Homo sapiens: one gene and its partner. The protein of the gene in region 1 purifies or fractionates together with the protein of each later gene. This does not show direct contact. Each region holds a gene or a part of one and is shown on either strand. Other genes may lie near its edges.

Region 1 (7,035 bases):
GTATGTAAAACATTTATATGGCCCCCAAGTCAAAACTGTGTAAAAAGGCATATTCATAGAAGTCTTGCTTCTATCCCAATTCTATGTGCCCCATTCCTATCCATCCTCTATTTTCATTAATTTCTAGTTTATCCCATGTGTACTTCATTTAAAAAAATAAGGAATTACAGTTTTTCAGAACTATAATACACATACTGTGCGTTAAGCAACACCCATACAACAGCTTTTATATGAGTTTGGTCATGGAGCATACAACTGACATGTATCACGTTTTCTACTTGCAATAAATACACAGAGTGGCATACAAGCAAACTCCCACCTGAATTCCGATCAATCCACTGCAGGGAGTCCATATGGGCATTCAGAATTCTGCAGATCTGGTGGAGCTAAAAATACATATAAGACTTTTAGATTATGATTATTCTGAGGTGGTAAATAAAAAATAAACATAAGAAATTGACATTAGGAAGTGACTTTTAATTTCTTCTGGTAAGAAATGGACTGAGAATTACTAAATACTAATTTTTTTGTTGCTAATTCATATTTGCAATGTTCATTATCTTTATATATTGGTTCAATTTAATTATTTGTAACTATCATGAATTGGATACCTACAATTCAATAAGAAACTGACTACCACAGTATAAAGAACATTAAGACACATTTCACAAGACAATGAATTCACATAAAAAAATTAAAAATAGCACCAGTTGTCAACCAAATCAGCAATTTTTTAAAAATGGTCTTACTCAGTTATCGAGTGTGTGGGAAAAAATAGTTACATTCATATATAGCCAATAGTAATATAAATTGACCCAACCTTTCAAAATGTAAATTTTTATGATACATATCAAAAGCTTTAAAATATTCATACCTTTTGACTCAGTCAGTATATTCTATTTCCGTTATCCAGAGGAGATAATCAAATCTAAATATAAGTGGTGATTACTGGACTATTTTATATTGGCTAAAGATTGGAAACAATATCTCTACCAATCAAAAAATGATTAAATAGATCATGGTAAAGTCAACCCTGATGAAACATTATAGTACCATTAAAACTCATGTTTTCAAAGAATGGTTAAAATTTTTGGGAAAGACCATGAAAGAATATTAAGTGAAGATAGAATACAAAAAGTTATATAGTTTCCAGTACTCTTTAATACAAAAGAAGTATTTTTAGCAGCATAGCAAAAAAGACTAGAAAGAAATACACCAGTATATTATCAGGGTACTGTTAATATAGATGACTTAATTTTCCTTATGGATTTTGTAAGAAAATGTGACTGAATAACACAGTGCATAATATGAACTTACTTAATAAAACTTTTAGACATTAGGTGGTCTTTCCCATTGCCGCTCACAAAAAAAGGGGGAATAAAAATAGATAAATCTCATCACCGTGAATACTGGAACACATAGCTCCTATTTTTCTACCCTAGTATATGACCCAGAGTAATAAAGCTTTGTTAATCCGGTTAAAATAAATTATCTACAGGAATATTATTGTTCAGAAAATGTTTTTCCCGTTTCTTGTCCAAGGATTTATGCTATCTGCAAAAAGAGCTGTCAGTGATCTCTTTCTTCTTTTATTCTGCAATCAAACAGCAATTACCCTTTAATTGACTCATCTTAAACATCCCAATCACCCCTGCCAGGAAAACAAAAAGACTCAAACCATTTACTACCCACTACTAAAATAAAATAAAACAATCCAGGGCTAAGTAGAGAAAATGGACAAAGACAGAATTATAGTCTCCTTTTAGTTACTTGATTGAGAACACTCCACTTATATTAATTCAACACAGAGAAACTAGAAATCAACTCTGCTGAATGTCTAAATCTGCATATATTTACCTATGCACCAAAATTCTATTACAACAAAACAATTTTGAATTTTGGAATTACAATGGTAATCTAATATTTCATTAAGAGAAAATCTGTATTTTGTAAACTCTTGATCATTTGTGTGAACACAGGGACATGGTAGCATGAATAATTTCAGATTAATTTATATTTGTCTTTGTTCAACTTTAGATTCACCCAAAGTACAGAATGGCATAATTTTTATAGCGGGAAGGGACCTACAGATCATTTAGTCTATCCTTGACATTTTGCAAAAAGAAGGAGCCAAGACCCAGAGAGATTAAATGACTTAAACAAAATTCTAATACTTTCTCAGCTATAACACACTGTATCTTCATAATTTAAAAAATGGTAATGTGTATGTAGATAAAGAACTGTCTGTATATAATTGAACAAAGAGCTTACTAAAGAATAATCACCACTTACATATATGTCATTCATCTTCACCTACCCGATCCTGGCCTCACTCCTGATTATGATTAACTGATAGAAAGCACAATGGGAACTCCCACAATGGGAGATCCCTCTTACTACTACTGCCACAGAGTGGGAGCGGGAAAAGGAGGACTCCATTTAGCTGCTAAGACAACAGGGAAAGGTACAGGAAATAAGCTGTTTAATCAGAGTATAGAGAAAGAAAAAAAAAACAATTCTTTCTTACTGCCAAATTAATTCACAGCACCTTAACTCTAATTGGAGCCTCAGCTGTAATTCCACTGATATAATACATTTATTATGAGCTAAATAGTATTCTGTGGGGGCAGGTGTAAACCTAATAACCATATTTCACCAAGTTTCTATAGAAAAATGTAAAGTCTCAAATAGTCAACCTAACAAATTTTAAAATACAATCTAACCATAAATTAAGGATTGCCTGGTTGTGTTGAACAGACACAAGCATACCTACTAACACTTATATAAGTATGTAAACAAATATGTAAAAAGAAGAATGAACTGGCTAGTAAGTGAACAGAAAAATAAATACAGGTACATACTTAGTTATGTGAAGAATAAGGGAGAAAAGCATGACAACTTAGGGAAGAGTAATATTTTCACCTTCCTGGGAATAACCACAAAAAACTCACAACCTTTTCTGCCTCTAGATGTTTCCTGCTCCACTAACCACACCCAAGGGGCTTCATATTTCTAGAGGCAGGAAGAAACACTATAGAAGACGGAAAAAAGGGACTAGCTTAAAAGAACCACAGAATGCTAATTTCTTTCTAGAGACAGGATCTCACTCTGTCACCCAGGCTAGAGCACAGTGGTGCAAGCATAGCTCACTGCAGCTTTCAACTCCTGGGCTCAAGTGATCCTCTCACCTCAGCCTCCAGAGTAGGTAGGACTATAGGTATGTACCACCATGCCCAGATAGATTTTTTCATTTTTGATAGAGACAGGGTCTCACTATGTTGCCCAGGCTGGTCTCAAACTCTTGGCCTAAAACAGTTCTCTTGCCTCGGCCTACCGAAGTGCTGGGGTTATAGGCATGAGCCACCATACCTGGCTGTATGCTAATTTCATACTAAATCTTGGTTGCCTAAGTACACAAAGCAGTAAACACACCGGATCAGTAGTGTCAGAAGAACTTTCAAATGTATTCAGGTGATTAACAACGTCCTTGAGATCTTGGGCCATTTGTTTCAGCTGAGCATCTATACTTTCTGCTAATCTGTAACTGAAAAGGCAAGTAAAATAAAGGGATTAACAAAAAGTGTTTTCTCCACTACCTATTGTTATTGATATATAAACATGACACTACCAATTGGATTTGCCCTAATTCCCCTGTCTTTTCAGTGGAGCTCAGTTATGACTACTGATATATTTTCATGGATGCAGCATTTGTGACGTTATTATTACCATGTTCTAAAAAGACTCCAAATGAGAAGACTTTTATCTACCTTGCCTTTTTACCTTCACCTATTTATCCTCTAGGTGAATACCCTGGGGATCTGTAGAGCAAAGGAATCCTTTAAGGTGTCAAAATACACCTATAGCACATTTACATACAAAAGAGAAGTTATTTAGGGTTTGGCAATATTCAATAGATGCTGAGATGTCTTCAATGATCTTGAATACACAAATTTTCAAAATAAAACCTCATATAAATATACTTCATCAGGCAAAAAAGATGTTTTGAGAAATGAGCTTCACAATAATCAAAGATAGACAAACCTGCTAAGTTCACAAGTTAGTTGCCTAAATTCTCGAGATTTCCACCCAAACCACACACACACACACACACACACACACACACGACCCAGTCAATAAATATGTTTATGAGAATTAAAGTGGCCAGAGGATTTTTCAACCTTAATGTGTATAAAGATTGAAAGAGTCAATTAGATTTGTAGGTAACAACTATCTACTGCCTTTCTATGGCATAGTACTTATGCCATAGAATTGGTTGCCTACATTATTGAAGATTCTGGTAAATATTTCATCACAATACAAATCTGGGCCGGGCGCGGTGGCTCATGCCTGTAATCCCAGCACTTTGGGAGCCCGAGGGGAGTGGATCATGAAGTCAGGAGTTCGAGACCAGCCTGGCCAACATGGTGAAACCCGGTCCCTACTAAAAATACAAAAAATTAGCTGGGTGTGGTGGCGCATGCCTGTAATCCCAGCTACTCAGGACGCTGAGGCAGAAGAATCGCTTGAACCCAGGAGGCAGAGGTTGCAGTGAGCCGAGATCGTGCCACTGCATTCCAGCCTGGGCGACAGAGCAAGACTTCATCTTGAATATATATATATATTCAGATATATATATATATATATATATATATTCAGATATATATATATATATTCAGATATATATATATATTCAGATATATATATATATTCAGATATATATATATTCAGATATATATATATATATTCAGATATATATATATTCAGATATATATATATATATGACTACAAAGGAGCAACTGGAAAGGAACTAATGTCATGAAGATTTCTTCAAACTACAGTTAGGATCTTATGGCCAAAAATGTAACTCTATATGTTTCAAAAAAATGATAGAATGCATAGAAAGCAATACAAAGAAAAGAAAAATTCACAAAGGTTGAAATACAAAAGCAGAAACTGATTTAGGTTAGTATAGATTAGTTGTACTTACCACATTTAATGCGCCTACAAAAAAGTTAACTTGCAAGCATGTTAAAAACAGGCCCAGTCTTAACTCATAATAAGTCATTGATAAAATGTGTCCAATTTAGTCTCAATCTAGATTATGTTGTTCATTCATACAAATTCTAATACTTAATAAATTGGCCAATTACCAAACCTCAGTTCCAGAGAAATAAAGTTACTTTGGGAATACTGGCACTGTATTGACAGAAGGTAAAGACTGAAGAGTTCACAAATAAAATATAGCCCTCCTAAGACATTGACAAAATCACTCCATTTTTGAAAGCTATACAGTTTGCCTCCAGATTAACAAATTGCCTTTAAAATAGCAAATGATTTATCACTAAAGCAATTGCATGACTATTAGTTTTAGCAGAATCAACATAAAGAGGAGACCATAAATATCCCACAATACCATGACACCATACACATAAAATTTGTACTTCTAATTTAAGAACAAATTTGACAAATACAAAAACTTTACAGTGAACATGCATAAGGTTGACAGTAATAACAGTAAACAAAATGCTATAAAACAAAATTGCCAGAATGATTTCCTCATTTACAAGCATCCAGAAAAGATAACCAGAAAACAATCAAACAAATTGATAAATGTCAACTACAAAAGCTTGTCCCTTTCTACCGATTTGTATTCCTTGCCTTCCAATTCGACTTTTCCCCTCTGTTCCTGGAATGCTCTCAGAATACGTAAGTCCTGCCCCATTCTTCAATCTTTTTTCAGTTACTTACATCTCCACATGCTCCTCATCTGCATCCTGCAGATAATGAAGTCCACTCTGGTCACGCGTAGACTCCTCTAAATAAGTCAACAGAAATTCTAGTTCCTGCTGCTGTGACAGGATAAAATCCAATTCTTGTTCCAATCTGAATAAAATAAGTTAATAAAAAGGCTGATGAAAGGAATTTGGAGTGACAAAAAGAAAAGAGTTAACAAACTACAGAAGGAAAAAAAAAACACTGAATAAAAAGATAGGTCTTTAATCTTTCAACCAAGGAAATCTAAGGTTCTACCTTTTCTGATCCAGTTTCACTTTGTTCACTTCTCCATGTAAAATACGAATCTATAAAGAGAAATATGAATACAACAATATAAGTATTTGAATTTATATAACAATTTTAGAGCAATATTAATTTTCTCAAATACACTTCAAATATGAAAGATTTCCTTTTATTCAGGGTACTTATTGCCTAAGGAATATACTTTGAGCTGCTCACCAATATTGGAATAGAAAATTAACCACAGGGCTGGGTATGGTGGCTCATGCCTATAATCCCAGCACTTTGGGAGGCTGAGGCAGGAGGATCACTTGAGCCTAGGAGTTTGAGACCAGACTGGACAACGCAGTGGGACCCTATCCCTACTGAAAAAACACACACACAGTTAGCTGGGGGTGCTGGTGTGCCCCTGTGGTCCCAGCTACTTAGGAGGCTGAGGTGGGAGAATTGCTTGAGCCAGGGAGATCGAGGCTGCAGTGAGCTGTAATTGCACCACTGTGCTCCAGCCTAGGTGATAGAGCAAGACCCTGTCTCAAAAAACAAAAACATAAACAAAACAACAACAACAAAGAAAACCACAAAACACAGGTCTATTTTCTTGTGTTCATCTGCAAATACTTGCACAATGTAGGTAGATTAATGAAAATATTTTCTTACCATCTCACCATTCTCAATCAATGTATGGTCCCAAGCATTGACCTGAGTGGCCTGGAGAAGAAAGTACTTCTCTTGATCTTCCAGCTCAAGGTTCCACTCATTTATAAGACCCTCCAGATGACCATATGTCATCACAGGAGTTGCTACTACACTAAAACATAAAAAGATGCAGGATGATCCAATAATCATACTTTAAAAAGTGTGATCAGATTTTAAAAACGAACACAGGAGGACTCTGAGAAGAAAACAGCATGTAAGGAATTTCCCATACCTGCTTCCCAAGAAAACAAACATAACTGGTAAAGATGATTAAAAAAAACAACCCCTCAAAGTCACTTGAAATTATCCTAGGTGAATATAGTA
Region 2 (4,365 bases), on another chromosome or scaffold:
ACAGGTCTTTGCCATAACTTTATGAAGTGCTACAGAAAGCACAAAGAATTGATTCATGTTCATCAATACCTGCTGAGAGTACTGTCCCAGGAATATCCAGTGGATGGATTCATCATCCAGGAGGTTCAAAAGTAAGATGGTTTTCAAATCATTTTTGAGACTGGTTGCATAACAGCAGGGTACCTGAAAGAGCCTTCTGGGAGTTAGTGAACTAGGTAGATTGTTTTGTTCACATAACGCCACCATCAACTTAAAGTGAATTGTCTTTGTTATAAATGAGGTCACTATGGACTTACCCTAAAGATCTTCTGTACTTCTGTCTTCCATAGGACAAATGATAAGTACTACATACCTCATCTCTTGGGTTATTATTGTAGTCTTGCATTCATGGTTATGAATTTAAAAATAAATACCAATTATGGAAATAGTACTAAAGGCTTGCCGCACATGAAACATTATTTTAATTGGTTTAAAGTCCCTTTATAAAGAGTGCTACATGGTTTAGATAAAGGAAACATATAACTATTGAGTTACAGGGGATTTTATTAATTATAAAATGCAATCAATTTAAATTACGTAGGTTTAAGACTAGTCCCTTGGATAAGCCCCAAGCGAATTTGTCTTCAGATTATTAAAATTAGTGCTGTAAATCAGGGTGGGCAATTCACAGCCTTTCTGAACTGACTGAACTAGAGCTTGCAGTGAAGTGTTCTGCTGAGACTGAGCACCTTACAGATATTTTTCTCCAGAAGATGGTGCTGGGTAATAAAATCATCACAATTAGGGAATGGTTAGTGGTCTCTACTGTGGCAAATGCCAACTGTTGGAATTCACTTTATTGTAGAAAAACCCAAACTGAGACTCTTAAGTTTTGTTTAGCAATGTGTTTCTGGTATGAAACAAACTACTGTGTCACTGTCCAGGTAGGAAACAATTCTTTCAACTGGGTTTTCAGCATAAATGGGAACTGATGTAGAAGGCAGGATTTAGCCCTTCTAGGCAAAAGAAAAGCTCAGTTGGGTTTCACGAGTGTTCCTGTGCTTATATTCAGTCTGTGCCTACATGTTCTCATGCATGTCTAACCTGATTTACCTCTTACCTGTAACCTACCTTATCATGTGGCTTTTAATTGACAGTCACTCAGCCATTTCTAAGCAGATATAGTAGTACCTTTCAGAACTCACATTGGCAAGTGTAAAAAGATGACTTAAGGTGAAGTGAGGACAAAATCACATTCTGCATACTAACCTATTTTTTTCTCCCTTTAAGGTGCTAAACTTGCACCTCATGTCCACTCAGTAACAAGTATTGGGACGTAGAGCACAGCCTCACTCAGCTCTGAAAGGTAATACAGCTTGTGAGGAAGTGAGCCAGCAGTGGCCTTTGCAATTGTGGATCTTGAGCTCTGCTCTCAGCAGATTTCAGGTGTAACCATTTGTTAACTGTACTGAAGGTGTGTCCTCAAGAAGAAAGTGTTCAAATTAAAAAAGCTGCTGCCAAGTACACTGTGTGGTCTTCTCCTTTGAATCCTAGGGTTCTATCCCTCTTCAGAGTCATGTTTCTGGTGCTGCTACTTTAAAACACAGCTCACAAGAATAACTAACTTGCTCAAATATGGAGAAAACTCAATAGGGTTCAGGGAGGTTCTGGCAGTGTGCAGTGTGAAATAATCCTGAGTCCTTGCTGAACACAACTGTAGGCTTGAGTTATAAAGCACATTCCAAATTTTAAATAAAAGCATTTACTCAATTATTATAAAACAACATATTTAAAAAGATGAACCACACCAAAGGTCATCAAAACACCTTTTTATAAATTAGATAATTCTACCTGTTTTACAATATGGGTTTAAGCCTTCAATGGTGTTCAGTTCAGGTGTGAGTCAGCTCCTGGTGGTGTCAGAAGTTTACATGATTGCGGATATCATTGATTTGCTTCACCATTTCCCTTATATGTTCACCCCTGTAAAATTGTAAAGTCACTCACTTTTGGAATTATAATAAACCATTTATATGGATTCTTAAGAATTTAAACTGGTAATGTTGAAACATCTAAGAACTGCTTTGCTAAAATTAACAGCTGAAGGTTTCAGGTGGATAGCAATAGTGTTCACTATTCATTTAAGGTGGCAAACGGTGCAAGTACTGGAAATATTTTTGAACATAATTACTGTAAAATACCTTTGGCCACACAACAAAATCATGTTACTAGAAGGTCATCCCTTTCAATCCTCCCACCATAGTCATTTCTTAAGTCCCTATGTATCATGTGGCTCTCATCCCAGTAATTACTTGACATGCAAATACCAAGATTCAGGTTTCTATTAAGACAGGTTGATTCTGGCATACTGTAAAGGAAAAACTATCTCACGATAATAGCTGATTGGAAGTATTTACTTACTCCTCTTTCAGGATGGACTGAATGCACTTTCGCTGGTAGGCACTGAGAATAATGGTGGGTTTTGGAAGACTCAACACCTTCTCCATCTTTTGCTGTTGATAATCCTTTTTCATAGTAACCTTAAGTATTAAAATAATAGATATTTTGGCAGTGGTTTGCCACACATTTTCACAGTATCTATTTGAATCTGTTCTTTTTACATTTTTGTAAAATTTTCTGTAGAATAAGTGCTTTAAGAAAAATTACCAAATTTAGCTAGTTTGGATCTATTCCTACCTGTTTGATGGCATTGCCCAAATGTCGAAGTTGATCAGGTATCAGCTGTAATTCTTTCTTCATGTCTCGCTCACTATCAGAGAGAACTGGGAGCTCAGAGTGAAAACTGTGAAGTAGTTTTTTCATCCTTTAGAAAAGGCAAGCAAACATCTCAATTTAAGGTCTCTACTAATTAGGAGAAACATAATCACAAGCTCATAATTCATGAATCTGGTGTTTCTGAAGTAGGCCCCATAGGAAGGGTTAGGGGAGAGCCTCATGTTTTCCCCAACATATACTTCAGAGGAGAGGCAGGGGGATCAGTTCAGTTCCGTAGGTATGTAAGCACCTGCCAATGCCCATTTTCTTAAATATCGTTGTTAGTACCTGACTAGGTAACTAAATGTTATACAGCCCACTGACCTGTTCATGATATCCTCTTGTTTTTCTTTAGCTTCCTCATATTTGTCAGCTAAACGCTCAGCCATTTCCCGCAGACTTTTCCTAATGATGTAAGACACAAGAGACTCTTGAGGTCCACCCCTTGATGCTGAAACCACCTAATGTGGCTCAGCATCTTAGGGTGAGAATATGGTTCCAGTCTTACTGACCTATTGTATTCTTCTTATTTTTGACACTTACCTCTCTTCTCGACAATAACTGAGATCTTCTAGTTGTTTCTTTTTTTGGTCACATAATAATTTGACCCTTTAAAAACAAAAAGAAATAGAGTTTATTCAGAAGCCAGGTCTAGGCTACCATACAGCATCAGCTACCAGCCAGGGATCGATGGTTTGTGAACACAGGACATCATACCTCCGCTGAATCTCCTCCTTTGCCAAGTCCTGTTTGAGAATGTACTGCTCTCTGAACACCTGGGTGGCTCTGCTGAGGAGCTGAAGGCATTCTTCAGGAGGAGGGGCTATGTCCTTTTCAGAAGCTCTTAAAAACAAAGTTTCTACCTTTATTTTCCTTAGCTGAGTAAAACAACTGAAAATAAATAGACTCAAGTCACAGGTGCTTTTTAAACTTTTTATATTTTTAATTTATTTATTTGAGATGCAGTCTCGCTCTGTCACCCAGGCTGGAGTGCATTGGTGCTATCTCGGCTCACTGCAACCTCCACCTCCCAGGTTCGAGCAATTCTTCTGCCTCAGCCTCTCGAGTAGCTGGGATTACAGGTGCCCACCACCACGCCTGGCTAATTATTGCATTTTTAGTAGAGACAGGGTTTCACCATGTTGGCCGGGCTGGTTTTGAACTCCTGACCTTAGGTGATCCGCCTGCCTGGGCCTCCCAAAGTGCTGGGATTACAGCTGTAAGCCACCGTGCCCAGCCTAACTTGAGACGAGTCTCACTGTCGCCCAGGCTGGAGTGCAGTGGTGGGATCTCAGCTCACTGCAACCTCTGCCTCCCAGGTTCAAGCGGTTCTCCTGCCTCAGCCTCCCAAGTAGCTGGGATTACAGGCATCTGCCACCACACCCAGCTAATTTTTTTTTGTATTTTTAGTAGAGATGGGGTTTTGCTGTGTTAGCCAGGATGGTCTCGATCTCCTGACCTCGCGATTCACCCGTCTTGGTCTCCCAAAGTGCTGAGATTACAGGTGTGAGCCACCACGCCCGGCCTAGCCTAACTTCTTTTTAAACACTTCCTGTTTATCATTCTCAGGTGCCACTTCCCTCCTGCTCCCCATTCACTAGCTGATCAAAT

Evidence for each region.
Region 2: the proteins of NUP62CL (region 1) and NUP88 purify together in Homo sapiens (affinity purification with mass spectrometry; 2 studies listed by BioGRID and IntAct, with this or other methods). This does not show direct contact.

What each region holds. Positions count from the first base shown.
Region 1 is NC_000023.11:107,147,424-107,154,458, forward strand, and holds part of NUP62CL (nucleoporin-62 C-terminal-like protein), read right to left. Parts: intron 6,824-7,035; coding exon 6,673-6,823; intron 6,081-6,672; coding exon 6,031-6,080; intron 5,884-6,030; coding exon 5,749-5,883; intron 387-5,748; coding exon 362-386; 3' UTR 320-361; intron 1-319.
Region 2 is NC_000017.11:5,384,308-5,388,672, forward strand, and holds the end of NUP88 (nuclear pore complex protein Nup88), read right to left. Parts: intron 3,646-4,365; coding exon of another isoform or gene 3,598-3,645; coding exon 3,472-3,597; intron 3,364-3,471; coding exon 3,298-3,363; intron 3,160-3,297; coding exon 3,079-3,159; intron 2,804-3,078; coding exon 2,677-2,803; intron 2,520-2,676; coding exon 2,401-2,519; intron 2,034-2,400; exon of another isoform or gene 1,963-2,033; coding exon 1,899-1,962; 3' UTR 526-1,898; downstream 1-525. UniProt on the Homo sapiens protein: Component of nuclear pore complex.